Homo sapiens: one gene and its partners. The protein of the gene in region 1 interacts with the protein of each later gene in a pairwise test. Each region holds a gene or a part of one and is shown in the gene's direction. Other genes may lie near its edges.

What was found. Proteins that work in one complex are often made in the same cells at the same time.
Region 2: the proteins of DOCK2 (region 1) and KRTAP9-4 interact in binary tests that used the Homo sapiens proteins (3 or more experiments, as listed by UniProt).
Region 3: the proteins of DOCK2 (region 1) and TENM4 interact in binary tests that used the Homo sapiens proteins (3 or more experiments, as listed by UniProt).

What each region holds. Positions count from the first base shown.
Region 1 is NC_000005.10:169,709,558-169,717,744, forward strand, and holds part of DOCK2 (dedicator of cytokinesis protein 2), read left to right. Parts: intron 1-2,377; coding exon 2,378-2,450; intron 2,451-2,562; coding exon 2,563-2,666; intron 2,667-4,470; coding exon 4,471-4,654; intron 4,655-4,802; coding exon 4,803-4,900; intron 4,901-6,655; coding exon 6,656-6,745; intron 6,746-7,826; coding exon 7,827-7,927; intron 7,928-8,187. UniProt on the Homo sapiens protein: Involved in cytoskeletal rearrangements required for lymphocyte migration in response of chemokines. Activates RAC1 and RAC2, but not CDC42, by functioning as a guanine nucleotide exchange factor (GEF), which exchanges bound GDP for free GTP.
Region 2 is NC_000017.11:41,245,399-41,251,169, forward strand, and holds KRTAP9-4 (keratin-associated protein 9-4), read left to right. Parts: upstream 1-4,288; 5' UTR 4,289-4,322; coding exon 4,323-4,787; 3' UTR 4,788-5,255; downstream 5,256-5,771. UniProt on the Homo sapiens protein: In the hair cortex, hair keratin intermediate filaments are embedded in an interfilamentous matrix, consisting of hair keratin-associated proteins (KRTAP), which are essential for the formation of a rigid and resistant hair shaft through their extensive disulfide bond cross-linking with abundant cysteine residues of hair keratins.
Region 3 is NC_000011.10:78,668,015-78,675,030, reverse strand, and holds part of TENM4 (teneurin-4), read left to right. Parts: intron 1-2,701; coding exon 2,702-2,998; intron 2,999-4,479; coding exon 4,480-6,094; intron 6,095-7,016. UniProt on the Homo sapiens protein: Involved in neural development, regulating the establishment of proper connectivity within the nervous system. Plays a role in the establishment of the anterior-posterior axis during gastrulation.

The sequences.
Region 1 (8,187 bases):
CATACATACATAAATGAGTCGTGCATGGTGTCATGTGCCTATAGTTCCAGCTACTCAGGAGGCTGAGGCATGACAATCACTTGAACCTGGGAGGCGGAGGTTGCAGTGAGCTGAGATTGCACCACTGCACTCCAGCCTAGGTGACAGTGCGAGACTCCTTCTCAGAAAAAAAAAAATTCATACGTTAAATGTATTAAAATAACATTTCCTGGTCAAATGTGAGAAACTTGAGAACAAATATAGAAGTTAAAGGCTTCCTTATGTCAAGTTCTTAGAGCCCTTGAGATGTAAATGTGCTCTGCAGACCTGCAAAAGGAAATAAGAATGCAGAGCACGTCCCAAAACTCGTTGACTACCGAGCATTTTCCTTTTTCCTAGTGTCATATCCTGGGGCTAGGATTCTGTTGAACATATTTTAGAAATTCTTTGTTTTAGCCAAAGCAGGTGGGAGGCTTGATGGATCAATGTGATTGTGAACAACATATGAGAATATATTATGTTTCTCTTCATGAAATATCTAACTCAATTCTGAGGCCAGTCATGAACATACTGGAGGGACATAGAGTGACAGAAAAACTTCTTTAGCTCTAGTTTATAGCAGAAGTCACCATCTGTAAGAGCTTAGGGTCCTTGGAGGCACCTCTCTGAATCTGAAATGACCCCCTAGCATGTGTCTGGTGGTATTGTCAGCCAGTGGAAATGGAGGCCAGGTGGGTGAGCACCCTGGTTCCCTTGATCACCCTTCCTTGGTGCAGGATGTAACCAAAGTGGAATTGTCAAATAGTCCTCTTGTGGGTGGTGCCCAGTTCATCAAGCTGCACCATTCTACTCAGCAATGAGGAGTGACAGAGCTTGCAAGCCAATGTGAGCCTATCACAGGCTGTATAATGCCTGAAAGATGCCCTTTTGGAATAATTCCTTGACAGAAGTGACATTAACTACAAATATTACATTACCAGATCGTCACACTAAGCAGAAAGGAATAACCTGCATTGGAATAAGGATTTGGAATTAATTCAGTGAACACTGCAGCTTGATCATAGCTTCAGATATCTCTGCCTTATCATTAGCAGCATTCTTTATTCCCCCCGGGCTCTGACTCCAAACACAAGATGCACACTTGACTTCCTTTTCAGTGAGAGCTATTCAAACCCCAGCGGTTCTCCACTTATTACACATATTATTACTTTGCTCAGTGTGTCTCCCCATACCCAATGCCTTCGAATTGATGACCCGGTCAACTCTGTGGTCAGAAAGTTAATGTACCAGGTCAGGTTTCCCTTCTCTGTTCTCTCTTGCACCTCAGTTGTATCTCCTTGCTAGCCCTTGTCACAGGGCTGTTACACATTGCCCCATGTGTAACACGGAACAATGAGCTCTTTGAGTGTGAGGACTCTGCCTTGTATCAGCATGGCCAGCACCCCACATGATTGTAGCTTCTAGTGAACATTCAACACTCAGGGAAAGAATGAATTGGCTGCAGTTACCCATGAGACCCTCAGTTCCTTTGCTCTGCCTGAAACATAGACAGGATGGTGGACCTCCTCAGGCTCAAGCCTCATTTTCTGCAACAGAAAGTGCCCCCAAGTATACATTTGTTTTGGCGTTTAATAGGCATCTGTACAGTACAAATGTATTCCTTTTTAAAATCAGTGTCCTTCTCTCAGGTAGCTAACCTTCTCCGCATTGGCCTGAATCTCAGATTGCAGAGGAGCTGTGAGACTTTGGGAGGTGGGCAGCACAGAGCCAGGCTGAAAGCATCACAATCAGTGGTACCAGTGGGTCATTCACTGGACAGGGATGCCTGGGTGACCAGTGGGTTGTTGTCTTAGCTCAGTGTCCTTGGAATCAAAAACATCTGGACATGTGTCTGATCAAGGGTGAGATGAGCCCTAGGATTTTTCCAAATATTATTGGATTAAAGCATTTTTATTAATTTGCATAAATGAGATTCCTCAAGCAAACCCCCTAACAACCATTGTTAATTTGCTAAGCCCTGCTGCAATTGCCAGAACTCCTGGAGTGTGTAAGGAAAATGTGCATTGTGCAGTTTGCAGTGCATCAAATCCTGTGCTAAAGTTATGTGACTTTTATATCAATTTGGGGAGACTCATTTTTCCTCACTATAATTTACAGACCTCTTTTCATTGGCTGGGAATGCAATTTGCCAAATGGATTACATTTGGTACTTTATTTTCTCTTCATAGCTAGTTCTTCTGTAATTTATTTACAGTTCATCAGCCTCAATGGATGGGTTGTAAATCAGCAGGCAGCTCTCTCAGTTAAATGGTCAGGCTGCTGTGGAAGTGTGTAGGGGGGTGCAGTGGGGAGGGCCCTTTAACTCATTGTGTTCTGAGCTCTGTTTCTGTCTGCTGAGGTGGCTGTCCCTATTGAAGACATGCAGAGGATCCATCTGCGATTCATGTTTCGACATCGGTCATCTCTGGAATGTGAGTACCATACTGAATGGCATCTCTGCACCTCCCCCTAAGGGGAGAAGAATGGAAGAGCTGGGTGGCCCATGTATCATTTTCTTTCCTGACCCCACAATGCTATTTCCAGCTAAAGATAAAGGAGAAAAGAACTTTGCCATGTCCTATGTGAAGCTGATGAAAGAAGATGGGACTACTCTACACGATGGATTCCATGACTTAGTTGTCCTCAAGGTACCATGAGTTGGAAGGAGCTCTGCACTGAGGGGAGTGCAGGAAGAAAGGGGGTGATGGCAAAATTGCTTAGTGGTCAACAGCAGGGACCCCAGAATCACACACACCAGAGTTTACCAACTTTGTGGCCTCTTATAAACTCTTGACTTCTCTGGGCCTCTGTTTCCTCATCTTTGTGCCCTCAGTGAATATTTGTGAAAATTATGAGACAGTGGATGTAAACATAGCAATGATGAGTACATGGAAGAACTCAATACATGGAAAAGGTTATTGTTATTTACAGAAAGGTTATTGTTAATGACTGTTATATACTCTTGACTCTGTAGGGACCTCTGTGGCATGTGTAGAGGATGTACAATAAACATTTGAGAGATGCTGCATTGTAGCTAATGGGAAAATATTAAAACCTGCAGTCCTGATCCTGCTGCTGACTAAGCCTGGACTCATCTCACATATTTTCCTGAGTCTCAGTTTCTTTTTTCTTAAGCAGTTGTGGCAATATTTATGACAACCCACTAGGATGACCCATGAAAAATGGCCATCTAAACTATAAAGGGAGTGCAGATGTCCACTATTTTTATTTTTACATTATGAGACTTGGACTGTTTTTGAGACATGGAGGAGCATTTGTCTGGTTTTTACCTGCTGCTTTTCCACATGTCCTCTTATGACAACAGAATGCATCTACTAGCACCTGGCTGGAGGCAAGTGTATGGCTGTGAGGTGGAGCAAGGTTGAGTAGCCAGCACATGGATCACACCCTTGCCCTTGGCTTTCTTAGCCTTGTAGGCTGAAATTGCCCTTTTGCCTGTGGGATGCATGGCAAACACAGCCTCGTCAAGGCTTCATCTCATAGTACTCTTGTACTCTTCTCTGAGTCTCTCTGACTTTTCCAGAAAACCCCCTTTCTTCTGTACAGCCTCTGTTTTCTCATTTATCACACATAGAATTCTTGGCTTGAAAGCCCTTCTTCCCTGACAGAATGTGAACTCCTTGGGGTCAGAGGCCTAGTTGCAGTCAATTTTCTTTTACTTACCCCCATTAGGTCCCAGTTTCCTTGACTGAGGATAATAACAGTGTCTGCTTCATATGTTTGTTATGAGGCTTAAATGAAATGAACCAAGACATATAAAACACTTGGTTTCACTCCTGGTGCGGAGTAAGATAAATGTTATCTTCTGTAATGCCTACCTCTAGTCATTCATTTTAACATGCCACTCATTTATGTGTGTATCACTCTGCTATGTATTCTATATGCATTATTCCATATTATCTGCTCAGGTATTCTAGGAAGTAGGGATGATGATTGTCTTCAGTTTACTAATGAAAAAAAAAATGAGACACAAAGAGGCAAAATAGTGTATTCAAGATAGCATAGACCTGTGAATGGCAAAACAGGGTCCAGATCCCAGCACACTCTTACTTAGTGCCTTTGCCATTAAATTCCTCTTTAAGCTAGAGTCCTTATTTTGCTGGTGAGCAGATATTATGGTCTCAAAAAAAGGATGAATTAAAATGTACTGTCTGGGAATTTTCAATTCCGTTTTTATTTTGCCATTAATGAGGTTCACAGAGCTTTCACCTGGTGGATCAACCCCCTTTCTATTAATGTGTCTTTGAATTCTTACCTGTATTGTGGAAAAACAGTCCTGCCTCACCAGCCAATGTCTATTGCTTCTCTGATGATTTTCTTCACTCTTTATGACTCTCCCCACTTCACAGTGTCTAATTTGTCTGCTGCAGGCTCTGTGTGGCATTGGGCATGGAGCCTTGGCTTGGGGCAGTAACCAAGTGTTGTTTCCAGGGGGACAGCAAGAAGATGGAGGATGCCAGCGCATACCTGACCCTTCCTTCTTATCGACACCATGTGGAAAACAAGGGGGCCACGCTGAGCAGGAGCTCCAGCAGTGTTGGGGGGCTTTCTGTCAGCTCCCGGGATGTGTTCTCCATTTCCACCCTGGTGTGCTCCACAAAGCTCACTCAGAATGGTAATCGGGTCATCAAGAGTTGTGTCTGTGGGGAGTGTGTGTGTCCGTGTGTGTGTACATGTGTGTATGTGCTTGCAGACCCAAGGAGGTCCTGATATGGACAGTTAGGCCAGTAATGATACTTCTGAATGTCTGGACTCTATTTTAGTGGGCTTGCTGGGTTTGCTGAAGTGGCGTATGAAGCCTCAACTGCTACAGGAGAATTTAGAAAAGTTGAAGATTGTGGATGGAGAGGAAGTGGTGAAGGTCAGTGGGGCTTCATTTTGATTGTATTCTTACACTAGTGACAGAACTCTCCATGTGGGTGGCTTCAGGGGAAAAACAAGGTATTGAAGGACATGGGGAAACTTTTCTTCCAACAGTAGGATACACTCTCCCGAGTTGCCTTGAGGAATCTTTATTGGGAAATCCAGGGGAGTGACTTGGTTCAATGGCACTGAATGTTGGGTGCCAGAAAACAATGGTTATGCTCAATCTCTGGAAATAGATGAGCCTGGGTGTAAATCCCAGCTCTCCCACATGCCAACTTTATGTGATAATATAAAAGTGACATAGTTCTCAGGGCTGTTATGAGCATTCAAGGTGATAATATTTAAAACTTACTCAACAGTCTCTTACACATAGTACACAACAATTAAACCAAAGCATATAAAACAAAGTTCAATAAATGGTAATTATTATTTTTGTTGTCATATGTTGATATATATGTATATGCATATATATGTATGTATGTGTGTGAGCATATATATGTGTGCATATGTATATATACATATATATATAGTAGTATGATCTGTTAGTACTACCCACAGATCATTGTTAGAAATAAAAAGTATTCTTGGTTTCTGCTGCTTGGAGAGCATTATGTATTAAAGACGGGAAAGGGAAAGACATCAGGGCTTACATTTTAAGTGAAATAAGCAGAAAACAATGCAAATGTCAGATGTATTATTGCATCCACATGGTAGTGGAGAATAGAAAGCGTCTGAAGTGCAAATCTAATTAAAGCAACCCTTCTCTCCAGCCTTATGAATTGGGACAAGTGTTTCCCAATGGTCCTGGAGATCTTGTTTCCTTGATACAGCTAGAAATTCTGAGATTAAACATCTTTATATGGTAGCTCTGTGTTTTGAGGGATTATAGGAAATATTGACCCATCCCTTAGGAGGGAGGAAAATCAAGTTTTATTTAATTGCCTCTACCTGGAGAAGCAGTGGCAGAATTTCCAGATGCCGTAAATGTATACCACTGACCCATCTACCTCGTTCAGCAATGGCAGAGTAACTCCCCAAGACACCACTTTAATAAAGTCTATAGCCTTTTGGTAGCTTGGAGAAGTCATGGAAGAGATGAGGCTTTTGTTGTCTTCCTCTTGCATTCTTTTTTCTTTTTTTTTTTTTAAAAAAGTTTGTTATTTAAATATGATATACATATGATGAAATAGATACAGAGCAGTTATCTTAAGAGTATAGCATAATGGATTTTTACACACGTAAACACCATGTGTACTCACCACCCAGAAGAGGATACAGACCACTTTTAGCATTATAGTAGATTCCCTCATACCCCTTCTCAGCCAGTAGTCCCCCGGGGTAATCACTGTCCTGACAACCATCATTGTAGATGGGTTTTTGCCTACTCTCAAATTTCATAAGAATGGAATAGTGAAGAGTGTACTTTCTGTGCCTGATGTATTTTACTGCATATAATGCTTGTGAGAATCATCCTCATTTCTGCCTGTGGAAGTAGTTTGCACTTTAGTCCAGCTGTGTAGTATTCTCTAGTGTGAACATGCCACCATCTGTGCATCCATTCTGCTGTTGATGGGCAGTTGGGTTCCTCCAACTTCTGGCTCTCGTGAGTAAAACTACTCTAGACGTTTTGAGCATGACATGTGGTGGATGTGTGCTCTCATTCTCTTATAGATAGTTAGGAGTGGGATTGCTGGTTCACCTGTACTTTGTCTTGTTTCTGAAGTAGTGCAACCTTTGTTATTTCTTCCAGTTTCTCCAGGATACTCTGGATGCCCTCTTCAACATCATGATGGAGCATTCTCAAAGTGATGAATATGACATCCTCGTCTTTGATGCCTTGGTAAGAGAGAGGGGAAAAGTGTCTAGTGACAACAGGCATTAATGTATGTCTTACTGTGAAAATACTGAGAACTCATGGCCCTCATGGCCCTCATGGCCTTTTTCATGAATTCTTTGGAGGTGTTGTAATGTTTGGCAACAAGACCAATAATGAGCTGCTATTTCCTTTTGCTTCTTGCCAGTTCATTTGAAAGCATGAGGCATTGTGGGTGAAAGGGGAATTTTAAATGCTGATGTCAGATTGACACTGGCTGAAGGTACATGAGGCTGGATATTGTGAATGATTGCTTCTGCTTTCTATGAATGTTGGGAGCTAGTCCCTGGCTAGGTTGTAAAGCACCAAAAATGTTTCTTAGCTTTCCTTTCACCTTCTTCTCCCCATTTCCTCCAACTCACTAATCATTACATTTCTCCTACCCACCCAGAACTTTTCATGATGCTGTACCATCCAGATCTTCCTTCTTTTAGTCCTCCCCTATGGTCTTTTTGTCCTCTCCCTATCTCGACTCAGATTTTCTCAGTGTTATGTCAAAATAAACACAAGAAACATCTGCATTAGGGAATCAGTGCCCAACAAAGTTTTTAAGTGTTAACCCCTTGTGTCATGGATATTTGCATTTTTAAAGAGGTTACTGAGAGACAACTGTGGCTTAATCAAGTGCTTCCCCAGAGAGTACCCTAGAATGCTAGCTCTCAGAAAAGATGTTTCATGACAAATATATACTTTGATTAATTAATTTAGGGAAGTGTTGAATGTTGCATGACCCTTTTAGAGATTCACAATGTACATAAGTATATTAAAGATTCTAAAAAGTTTTGCAATAAGAAAGTCTAATAATGATAACCTGACATTTCTCAAAACCTATTTGACCATGAAATCCTTTTCATCTTATAACACCCCACAGCACACTTCATGAAACATTTTCTTTGGGAAGATGCTACCTTAATAAAGAGAACTCATTATGTATTAGTGAGCTAATTCCTGGGCAAAGGATTTTAATGGGGGTTGAATTATGCCAGGTAAAGATGGCTTCCTGCCCTGGGTTTGCCCTGAAAATACTGCTGCCTTGCATCTTCCTCAGATTTACATAATAGGACTCATTGCAGACCGGAAATTTCAGCATTTCAACACCGTTCTGGAGGCTTACATCCAACAGCATTTCAGTGCGACCTTGGCTTACAAGTAAGTAATTGTGCACATGGGAACTTCTTCTCTACCACCCTCTTGCCCTGCCAGGATGCCTAGGGCACAGGAACTTGAGTAATTTTCTTTTGTGACTCATCTGTGTGAGCTCTCCATTCTCTAACAAAATCTAACCTATGCTTGGGTTATTTGGATATCATTAAAAATGTGGAATACCCATAGGTTTGGATGAATGCCTTATGGTTGCAGTGGTACCTGGAAGTGCTCATTCATCCATTCAGCTAGCGTGCTCTCATTTC
Region 2 (5,771 bases), on another chromosome or scaffold:
CACTGTTGGTGGGACTGTAAACTAGTTTAACCATTGTGGAAGACGGTGTGGTGATTCCTCAAGGATCTACAACTAGAAATACCATTTGACCCAGCCATCCCATTACTGGGTATATACCCAAAGGATTATAAATCATGCTGCTATAAAGACACATGCACACGTATGTTTATTGCAGCACTATTCACAATAGCAAAGACTTGGAACCAACCCAAATGTCCATCAATGATAGATGGGATTAAGAAAATGTGACACATATACACCACAGAATACTATGCAGCCATAAAAAAGGATGAGTTCATGTCCTTTGTAGGGACATGGATGAAGCTGGAAACCATCATTCTCAGCAAACTATCGCAAGGACAAAAAACCAAACACCACACATTCTCAGTCATAGGTGGCAATTGAACAATGAGAACCGTTGGACGCAGGAAGGGGAACATCACACACCGGGGCCTATTATGGGGTGAGGGGAGTGGGGAGGGATAGCATTAGGAGATATATCTAATGTAAATAACGAGTTAATGGGTGCAGCACACCATTATGGTGCACGTATACATATGTAACAAACCTGCACATTGTGCACATGTACCCTAGAACTTAAAGTAAAAAAAAAAAAAAAAGAAAGAAAAAAAAAAGAAACAGAAGTCATGATAGACAGAGGTTTTTGCTTCGGGTCCTGAACTGATTCAAGCTAAGCATTCACCCACGGAAGGTTGATTGATACTGGATCTGTGAGAAATACAAAGATTGGGGACCTAGGTCACCTTCTTGGGGCCTCCTACAAGCAGGGGAGTGGTAGAAATACCTCTGATGAGCTAACAATGTAGATTTCCATGACAGATGCCACTTCTGAGACTGTGAATCTAGAATGCTCTGAAGACTTGGCTAAGAGACAACAGCCACTTACTGTCATCATCGTTCAGGGATGAAGTAAAGGAGATGAAAACTAGGACATTCTCTTTGACTAGCATCAGTTATGAAAGATGAATAAGTTCAGTAGGTCTAATGTACAGTAATATGACTATAGTTAAAAACACTTTATCATATACCTGAAATTTACTGAGAAGGTAGATCTTAAATGTTCACACCAGAAAAATAAAAAGGAAATGGTAACTAAGTGACCTAATAAATATGTTATTCACAATCAATATATATATCAGAGCATCACCTTCTATACCTGAAATGTACACAATTTTTGTTTGTCAATTATACCTCAATACAGCTAGAAAAAAACGTATTTAGTTGATCTATTTAATTATTACAAAAATATTCTTATCTTCAACATAAAACTTGGGAATTTTCTGAACAAAAAACACTAATTCTGTGTTGCCTGCTCTATGATGGGTACTGGATAAATGCTTTGTGTACATTATTATTAACTATTTAACAAACTTTCAAAATAGGTATTAATGTTCCCCTTGTAGAGATGAGAAATTTGAGGCTGAGAGAGTTAACGTATTGTCATAGATTAGTTTCTCCCAGAAGAGACTTTGAAGAAAATATTCCAGGGAAACTAGTTTACTGAGAAGTGCAGATCACACCGGTAGGGACTGGGGAAGTGATACAGAAGAAGGCACACTATTAAGTCAGTATCACAGTCACCAACTAAAGCTTAAACTAAAGGGAAAACTATCAGAAATGATGAAAAACACACAGCTAGAATTACCCTACTTCAGGAATGAGGAAGCTAAAGTCTTTATAAATCAGCTCTCCAGAATCATTGGTTGAGTGTTTTTCTCTGTGTTGCATTCACAGGTGGCATGACTTTCTACAGCTGCAATACAAGAGCCCTTAGGCACAGAGATGCAGATTTTGACAGATGGAAATTGATCCAAGCACAGTAACATCCAAGATATATGGGTGCAGTCATGAAAACTTGTCTACAATCTACAATTAGCTCCACTCAAGTCAAATATTTGCTACTTAAATAGGATGGGCAGCCACAACCTCTAGGAGAAGGAAGAAGAGGAAGAGAGGAAGCAGAGGAAGAGAAGGGACAGAAGATGAGAGGAGAAGGAAAGAGAAAAGAAGGAAAGAAAAACAGAAAGACAGAGAGAAGGAAGGAAGGAAAGAAGGAAGGAAGGAAGGACAGGAAGGAGGGAGGGAGGGAAAGGAGGGAGCGGGGAGGAACTGAGGGAGGGGAAGGAAGGAAGGAAGGAAAAAAGAAAGAAAGAAAGATAAAAAGAAAGAAAGAAAGAGAAAGAAAGAAAGAGAGAGAAAGGGAGAGAGAAGGGAAGGGAAGGGAGGGAGGAAGGGAGGAAAAAAGGAAGGAAGGAAGGAAAAGAAAGAAAGAAAAGAAAGAAAGAAAGAAAGAAGAAAGAGGAAGGAAAGGAAAAGAAAGGAGAGGAAGTGAGATATAAAACGAAGGCCAATTAAATAATCTACACTTACTTCTGCTATAATACAGTGCACCTAAGTTTCATAAACTCCGTTAATTACCAAGAGTTCTATTCTCCCTTCACCCCTGGCCAGCACTCTTGTTGGTCTAGATAACTGCTGATAGAGTAGCTCAGAGCATCCTTCCTGAAGGGTCTGAGCCCCTGGTTACTATACCATTGTCCACCGTGATTGTTGTTTTTACTCATTTGTGGTTATCACTAGGCATGGACACACTGTGAGATTCTGCAGTGTTATGGGTTCATTTGCGTCCCTCAAAATTCATATTCAAATAGAATCATCTAAAGTGTTATCTGATAAGACAAGGTCATATTGGAAACAATTAGGCCTCTGATTAAATATGACTGTGTCTATTCACAAGGGAGAAATTCAGAGACAGTATGGATATAATAGAAAAATTATGTCAAACACACTTGGAGATGATAGACTTTGACACGTCAGGGAGAGAGACGTGGAACAGATACTTCCCTCGCAGTCTTCAGATGAAAACAACATTGCCAACACCTTAATTTCAGAAAAGAGGCCTTCAGAACTTTGATAAATAAATTTAAGCCACTTTTTTTCAGTAATTCATCAGGGCAGTGCTAGTAAATTAATATACTCAGTAAATCTCCTGAGCTATAGATATATTCTGCTACACTATATGGCTTGAGGGTAATTATCCCTCACCAAATAGTAACTACTTTCTCTGTCTGCTGCTTTGCTTATATGAAGAGTCCAAAATGACTAGGCGATAAAGATTACTTTTGTTTATGCCAAAGAAATAGAGAAGCAAATACTATACTTTTTATTCACATGAAAACTTTAAAAAACCAAAAATTACCTACAGGATTACAACTGATAGAGTGATTAGCTGTCTTTGGGAATGAGTAAGAGCATATAATTGGGAGAGAATGGAATTAATTTCTATTTCCTAACATAGATGTAATGGGGACACAGATGTATTTACAATATAATACTATATCAAGTTGAAAATTAATAATTTGCATTCTTCTCAAATGAATGGTATACCTAGAAAATGTTTTAAACATGTTAGAACTCCATGATGAATCAGGCATCATCTCAACTCATCTAATTCCTTCATTAAAAAGAAATAGAGAGAGAGAGAGAAGACATGCTGCTTACTGTGCTAGTAACCGGGTTGCGACTAGAGCCACAGCACATGCTGGTTGGCCTGAATCTCAAGCATTTATGCCATAGAGAGTCCTACATTCTCATTCTGGAATCGCCACGCTCACAGACAAGTCAGAATGAATGGTCACTCAGGGCATAGATTACTTGATGCTGTCTAAATCCCAGTGGATTTATCTGCATCCACCTGCTCTCGATCTGCTCTGCCACATGGAACACACTGTGACAAACACCCTCTTCCCAAGTGATGTTCAAAGAACTGAAAGACAGGTGGTGTGGGTTGCACAGAGAGATGCCTGCTAGTCTTGAGTCAGAATTTGGTGGGTGACTAGTCTTGGGCCCAGGCATGGATTCATTTTGTCACTGTAAATATATCAGCATCATGCTTCTCCCCACAGACACTTCCCAGTCTACATACAGCCAAACATGAGGCTGGCCAGAGAGAACTTCCTGAGCCTCCCAGATCAACAGGAACTATCACATGACCAGATGATGGTCAGAACAGGAATGATGCTGATGATGAGATTGCCTTCCTTTTATCTGAAACAAAGTGTCTATGAGTAATTCACAATTAAGAAACAGATTAAACCTTAATCTGTTTAACCTTAAGGAAACAACTACCCTTTGAGAATCACAAACGGACTGGGAAAACAATGTAAACGGAAACAAGGAAAAGTCCTGCTGATTGGTGGAAACTTTGGAGGCCAGGTGTATAAAAGGTCCAGATTGCAAGGGGTCATCAGATTCTGGGAAACTCACCTCTGAACAGAAGCCCACCCTCTACCCCTGACACCATGACCCACTGTTGCTCCCCTTGCTGTCAGCCTACATGCTGCAGGACCACCTGCTGCAGGACCACCTGCTGGAAGCCCACCACTGTGACCACCTGCAGCAGCACACCCTGCTGCCAGCCCTCCTGCTGTGTTTCCAGCTGCTGCCAGCCTTGCTGCCGCCCAACTTGCTGTCAAAACACCTGCTGCCAGCCCACCTGTGTGACCAGCTGCTGCCAGCCTTCCTGCTGCAGCACACCCTGCTGCCAGCCCACCTGCTGTGGGTCCAGCTGTGACCAGAGCAGCTCCTGTGCACCTGTGTACTGCAGAAGAACCTGCTACTACCCCACAACTGTCTGCCTGCCTGGTTGCCTAAACCAGAGCTGTGGCTCCAACTGCTGCCAGCCCTGCTGCCGCCCAGCCTGCTGTGAGACCACTTGCTTCCAGCCCACCTGTGTGTCCAGCTGCTGTCAGCCTTTTTGCTGCTGATCAAGTCCCAAGAGAACCACCATCCTCACACAACAACTTTCTGCTCAACTGACTTATCTTTTGGGGGACTAATTTAATTTGCTGCTGACAGCCACCATGCTCTCACCCAAATTTTTATGAATTCTCTACCTGTTTAAAATCTTGGGAATCTACTTGAGGGAGGGCAGAATACTTCATCCTGATTCTCTTTTTCCTTACACTTTGTGGATCATGTGCCAGCTTCGTGTGTTCTCAATTTTGAGTCATGGTCTCAGCTTTGACTCAAAAGTCAAGAGCTTCATTCTCTGCTTCTAAGGAATTTAGGTTTCTGCAACTGATCAATAATCTTTGCAATCATATTTTTGTTTTCAATATCCTCCTCATGGTTCTTGTATCCTTCTTTCTTCTTTTCATAACTTTGGGTTATGTTTCTGCTACCAGCAGAGATTCTTAGCTATATGTTTCTGAATAAACTCTGAACCATCCTCATCTCATATGGTGTTTTGTTTTATATGAAAGCATTCCTGATATGAGATTTACACACATATCACATACCATAGGTATTATCCAATTTGATTCTCAAAACAGATGGTCGTGTGTTATTACCTCCATTTTTTCAGCTGAGAACAATTTAATGTGTGATGTTATGTAGCTAGTAAAGGGCAGACTCTTGTCCAAGCTGAGGTCCTCTCTTTCTGCCCAAGGACACTTACATTTAACTCTCAATATAGTAGAAATGACATTGGAAGTAAGTATTAGCAAGTCATATACTTGAGTTTTTTTAACAATAGGACAAATAATCTCTTATATTTGCAGATAACGTTTTTGTTTACAAAAAATTCCCAATTTCCCACACCTCAGTGAGAAACAGCTGCGTGATATGGCAGCAGGGACTGCATTTAATGGCTGCCCTGAATGCAGGGAGCTCTTTTTGTCTCAGCCTCTGACCAGCCACTCATTCAATTCATCTACATCAAAAAAAGCTTGGGAATTTATTGTGGACTC
Region 3 (7,016 bases), on another chromosome or scaffold:
AGCTGGGTATGATGGGGGACACCAGTAATCCTAGCTACTCAGGAGGCTGAGGCAGGATAATTGCTTGAACCTGGGAGGCAGAGGTTGCAATGAGCCGAGATCGCGCCGCTGCACTCCAGCCTGGGCGACAGAGTAAGACTCTGTCTCAAAAAAAAAAAACTAGAAAATAGGCCCACAGCAGCTACAGAAACAGTAAGTGACTTATCCAATATCACACAACTGGAACCCAGAAAACCAGGCTTCGTTTGTTCCCTCAACAGCCAAGAGCTCTAGTGACTATCTACTGTGGGAAACAGCCTTGCACTAGCTCCCCGAGGAAGGCCTAGCTGTCTTTGTTCTCTGTGGCCTCACTGAGCTCCCCCGTCTGAATTCGCAGACTCCTGCATGCGCCTCTGAGGCAGTGTCCTCAATGGGAAGTTTGACCTGGGTTTGATTCCTGCCTGTGCCATGTGGAGCCTTGAGCAGCTCCTCTGAGCCTCAGGTGCCTCTGCAGAAACAAGATGATACAATCAACGCACCTAGCCCAGCACAGGTAGACTCCAGGTGCTCAATAAATGGCAGCGATTAGCATGATTAGGATTTCCTCTCTGCTGTGTGAACTGGACCAAAAGTTTCCCAGGCTTTAATTGGTCCCTCTCCCAACCTGAGATTGGGACGGGTGGCCACGTCTACATGTCCTCCCAAATAAATGGCCACCCACAGTGGTGGCAGGTGGAATTAGAATGTTAGCCGGGTGTGCCTCCCCATAATGGAGTTCATTTTTTATACAACTGGGAACTTTTTTAATAAAGAGGTGAAATAATCTCATTGCCGCCACTGCCGAGCACAGGACGCATTAGGCGGCTCCCCAGTGAGCTGTTTAATTTTATTAATTTTGCCAAAAAGGTACAGCTCCCCTTCACTAGAGATCCTCCAGGGAGAAAGGGGGACAGCTGGCTGGGTGGCACCACCCTGAGGGGAGTCACAGCGGGACCTTCCAAAAGATACTTTAAAAAGGCCTCTGTCATTGTTGGTGGCACAGCCCCTGTATCTTCCTGTGCCCTGTCTGCAAATAACACAGCTTCAGCCTCCAATGCCTCTGATTTTTCATGGGAATCATCTGCCACACTGTTTTTGCATCTGCAATTGTGTTTGATTACCCCAGAGAAGGTAACCTTATTATAACCAGGTCATTCACAGCTAAAGTCAGCATCGTCATTATAAATCGTTATTTTCAAGGCCTTAGAATTTGTGTGGGAGAAGGAGGAAACACACACATCTCTCCTTCCTGGGATATGACCACGATCGTTTGCTGTCATTTAATGGAAATAATTCCAACCATCTATTCAGTACCTTCTATGTGCCTAGCACTCCACTGATTTACTAAGTTTCTTCAACCTTCACAACAACTCTTGTTATACAGAGTAAGAAACTGAGACTCGGATAGGGGAAGGCACTTGCCCAAGGTTGATAGAAAAGTTGGTCACAAAGTTGCAGCTAGAATCCTGGCCTTCATTCCTAGACCTGCACCCATTTTTTTTTAACCACACAGGGATCCAGAGGGCCTTTCATTGCCTCGGTCCACACATGCCATTTTGCATCACGTGACCTAATTATCTGCTTTCCTCTTGGGTCTTCTGTATTACTTGTCAACCTTAAGCAATGACTAGTGGAAGAGACAGAAAATGTGCCCAAATGTCCCATAAGGCCAGACACCAATTAGCGGAAACCAGTATTTTAGTTCCAGAATACCTGGCAATATTTCAGGGGCCACCAATGCCTACAGGGCAGATCCAAATACAGAAACAGGCCCCTGAAGTATATTTCTTTATTAAAATATAAAAACCCTAACCTACCACTACGTCTGTAGGAGCCCTGTCTTTCTGACTCTGAAAGGAAATTGAACTGTGTGCTGGCCTAGCAGTCCAGGTGGAGTTTATACAAGGCACTCCCGATCCTGAAGGCAGGAGCAAAGTGCCTCAAAGCCAGGACTGTGTCCCCATTCGGCCCACAGGCAGAAAAGCCATCCCAGTGACAAACACTCACTGCCTCCCAGCACCTCTGGGAAGAATATGTCTTGGGTACTGACTGTGGCAATCAAGAAGCCCTGATTGTAGTGGCAAGCAGGAGACACCCGACAGGGGCTGGGAAGTTCAGAGCCCCCAGAAGGCCACGAATTGCTCAGAGGGCCACTGAGTGTTTGGGGGCACGTTGTATGTGTGAGAGTCAAGTCCAGACTCCGTCACTCACCAGCCACGAGATCCAGGGTAAATCCCTTCACCTCCCTGAGCTTTGGTCTCCGCAGTGTCTGGTGTGGAAGAGATGGGTCAGTTTATTTTCTGGGCTCACTTGGTGGGTCTCCTTTCAGCAGGGAGTCAAGAAGGATCTGCCTTTTAAAACGTGTCCTCATTAGAAGAATCACATTAGAAAACATGCAGATCCTCTTTGGTCACAGCTACTGATTTCTCAACATAGGGATCATCTTCATCCTCACAACAACCCTGTGCAATTGGCATTATTGTCCCCATTTTACAGGTGAGGAAACTTCACAGAGCTGACAAATGACAGAGCCAGGATTCAAACCCATGTCTGTTGCTGCGCAGGACTGTGCTCCCTCCTCTACTCAAGAGCTTCCCAGCAGAGCTGAGAGCAACGTGGCCCATCAGACCAAAGTTCTCATGGTCCAGATTAATTTTCTCTTTCCTTCCAACCCTTTCTCCAGGTTCACAACCGAAATCTCCTATCTCTGGACTTTGATCGCGTAACACGCACAGAGAAGATCTATGATGACCACCGCAAGTTCACCCTTCGGATTCTGTACGACCAGGCGGGGCGGCCCAGCCTCTGGTCACCCAGCAGCAGGCTGAATGGTGTCAACGTGACATACTCCCCTGGGGGTTACATTGCTGGCATCCAGAGGGGCATCATGTCTGAAAGAATGGAATACGACCAGGCGGGCCGCATCACATCCAGGATCTTCGCTGATGGGAAGACATGGAGCTACACATACTTAGAGAAGGCAGGTGTCTGTCTCCCTGCATCACTGGCCTTGCCATACAGAAGGCCAATCATTCACGGCCAAGCCCAGCCTGGTGGCCTCAGTGGGCTGTATCTGACCCATGTCACCAAAAGGAAATGTTCAGGAAAGTCTGCCACAGAGGGCATGGGGTCCCAAGAGGCATCAGGATGGATCAGGGAGATAGCATGGCAGGTGGTGGTCCTAGGGCAGGAGAACATGAAAGACCTGCCTGATAGAGTAGAGGCCCAAATACTCACTGGATTTGCAGAGCAGGACTCGGGGTTCAGACCCAGGCCAAGGGTCTGCTCCCAGGTCTAGGGCATGTGGTACAATCCAGTTGTGGAGAACCAGGCAGAAGCCTAGGCATCAGTACATAGGCAGGAGGCACTTACTCCTGAGCTTCAAGTGCTGGGCATGGCCTTAGTAAATCTATTCTGCTCTAGCATCAGAACTCATGTCATCCCAGGGGTAAGAATCAGAAATGACCTAAAATCAAAAGTTGGTCTCAAATAGGAAAAAATGGTAGCTTTGCAGCATAAAGCCTCTAGGCCTTTTATCTGCTGATCTTTTCCTGAGAACAAGTGCACTGCATGCCCCATTTCAAGTATCCAGATCCCTGCTTTGTTTCCTGACCCTGGTGACCTGTCCAGGGCATAGGCTGTGCTTGCTCTGAGGTGGGTCTCCTCTACCCACTGGGTGAGTACCCCCAAAAGTGACATTTTGCGCTAGTACTAAGAGAGAGAGAGACCTTGGAGGTCATCCAACATACTGAAAACCCAAACCCAGAGAGGGGAAGAACTTTCCCAGGGCCACACAAGGAGACTATTGTTAGAAACCAGGTTCTCCCATTCCCATCACAGTCTGCCCTATCCCAGAGTAGGCTTATGACCTGTCATTGTGCAAAGCCTTAAATGCCCTTCTCAAATATGGTCTTCGTGCTGTAAGCCACAGGGAGTCAGCGGAAACTGTTTAGCAGGTAAAAGAAATTGTGAGACTGTGTTTGGAGGAGCTCACTCTTGCCTGAATAGGAAGATTGGTTTGAGAAGTCTGGGGCAAGGAAGCCAGACTGCTGTACATACTTCAGGCCAAAGCTTCTTGGCCGTTCTCACACCCCACCACGCACAAAAGTAACCAGGTCTGTCCTGCACAAAGGGGCAAACCCACGAGGCTGCTCACCATAGGACAGCAAATGGCCTGAGTACCTGGAGGCCTAGGCCCCAGGTAGGTTACAGGTGTGCTAAGGTTAAAGCTGTGCTAAGATGAGGCTGAGAGAAAGCCTCATCTTGGCACATCTGTAACCTATTTGCAGTATCCCGTGACACTCCTGTTGGAGAGCTCTGGTTGGAGCATAACTCAAGAGAACCATGGAAACTCAGGATTCTCCTTGGACATTCATTCCGTCCCTTTAAGTCTCGGGTATGTAGACCTACCCTTTCTCCTCACCACCCTCCTCTCATCTCTTGGTTTTCCTCTCCCTCCAGTCCATGGTGCTGCTACTACACAGCCAGAGGCAGTATATCTTTGAGTTCGACAAGAATGACCGCCTCTCTTCTGTGACGATGCCCAACGTGGCGCGGCAGACACTAGAGACCATCCGCTCAGTGGGCTACTACAGAAACATCTATCAGCCCCCTGAGGGCAATGCCTCAGTCATACAGGACTTCACTGAGGATGGGCACCTCCTTCACACCTTCTACCTGGGCACTGGCCGCAGGGTGATATACAAGTATGGCAAACTGTCAAAGCTGGCAGAGACGCTCTATGACACCACCAAGGTCAGTTTCACCTATGACGAGACGGCAGGCATGCTGAAGACCATCAACCTACAGAATGAGGGCTTCACCTGCACCATCCGCTACCGTCAGATTGGGCCCCTGATTGACCGACAGATCTTCCGCTTCACTGAGGAAGGCATGGTCAACGCCCGTTTTGACTACAACTATGACAACAGCTTCCGGGTGACCAGCATGCAGGCTGTGATCAACGAGACCCCACTGCCCATTGATCTCTATCGCTATGATGATGTGTCAGGCAAGACAGAGCAGTTTGGGAAGTTTGGTGTCATTTACTATGACATTAACCAGATCATCACCACAGCTGTCATGACCCACACCAAGCATTTTGATGCATATGGCAGGATGAAGGAAGTGCAGTATGAGATCTTCCGCTCGCTCATGTACTGGATGACCGTCCAGTATGATAACATGGGGCGAGTAGTGAAGAAGGAGCTGAAGGTAGGACCCTACGCCAATACCACTCGCTACTCCTATGAGTATGATGCTGACGGCCAGCTGCAGACAGTCTCCATCAATGACAAGCCACTCTGGCGCTACAGCTACGACCTCAATGGGAACCTGCACTTACTGAGCCCTGGGAACAGTGCACGGCTCACACCACTACGGTATGACATCCGCGACCGCATCACTCGGCTGGGTGACGTGCAATACAAGATGGATGAGGATGGCTTCCTGAGGCAGCGGGGCGGTGATATCTTTGAGTACAACTCAGCTGGCCTGCTCATCAAGGCCTACAACCGGGCTGGCAGCTGGAGTGTCAGGTACCGCTACGATGGCCTGGGGCGGCGCGTGTCCAGCAAGAGCAGCCACAGCCACCACCTGCAGTTCTTCTATGCAGACCTGACCAACCCCACCAAGGTCACCCACCTGTACAACCACTCCAGCTCTGAGATCACCTCCCTCTACTACGACTTGCAAGGACACCTCTTTGCCATGGAGCTGAGCAGTGGTGATGAGTTTTACATAGCTTGTGACAACATCGGGACCCCTCTTGCTGTCTTTAGTGGAACAGGTTTGATGATCAAGCAAATCCTGTACACAGCCTATGGGGAGATCTACATGGATACCAACCCCAACTTTCAGATCATCATAGGCTACCATGGTGGCCTCTATGATCCACTCACCAAGCTTGTCCACATGGGCCGGCGAGATTATGATGTGCTGGCCGGACGCTGGACTAGCCCAGACCACGAGCTGTGGAAGCACCTTAGTAGCAGCAACGTCATGCCTTTTAATCTCTATATGTTCAAAAACAACAACCCCATCAGCAACTCCCAGGACATCAAGTGCTTCATGACAGGTAAGGACCACGGCTCACTCAGGGGCAGGACCCCATAAAGTGCTCTTACTACCTAACAATACTTAGTCTTCTTTGAGAAAGCTGGCATAAGGTGACAGGAAACACTGACTTTCTCTTAGAGCAGCATTTTCCAAAGTCCGTTTGAAGAAACACTAGTTCAGAAAATACTCTGGAAAAATGGTTCCAGCATCAAATAAATTTGTCAGGGTCACCACCATTATTACATTTTCATAGTACATTTCAGTGTATGATAAGCTCTGGGAAGTGCTATAAAAGTGAACTATTTAATATATTTGCCCACTATTTCTCAAACTTATTTGACCGTAAAAGCCCTTTTTTCACCATGAAATCCTAATATCTCATGGGATACATCCCATGGATTGCACTTTAGGAGTTTCTGACACACAAATCAAACTGCTAATGAGTCCTTGATTGGGTTAAGGTATGGCTTTAAAAAAAAATTAGTTCTCAATTTGGGATAATGTAAGAATGGAGTGAAGGATCCACCAGTTTGAAGCCATGACATGTTACAAAAATTATTTAACTGCCCTGAATTCCAGTTTCCTGATACGTAAATTGAAGTTAGAACATCTACCTATAATTAAATATGTGTATTATAAACCCTAGAGAAACCACTAAAAAGATAAAAACTAAAAAAAGAGTCCTAGCTAATAAGTCAACAGTGGAGATAAAATGGAAGACAAGAAAATAATCCAAAGAGGGCAGGAAAAGAGGGAAAAAAAAGAATAAGGAACACATGCAACAATAGAAACTAACACCTACCTGGTAGGGTGGTTGCAAGGGTGAAGTGAAATACATTTCATGAGGTACTTAGCGCAGTGCCTGGCTCGTGTTGGTTCCCTTTCCTTTACCCCCTAACTTGAAAAGTGAGCTCTGCCTTCCATTACCATGAAACCAACTT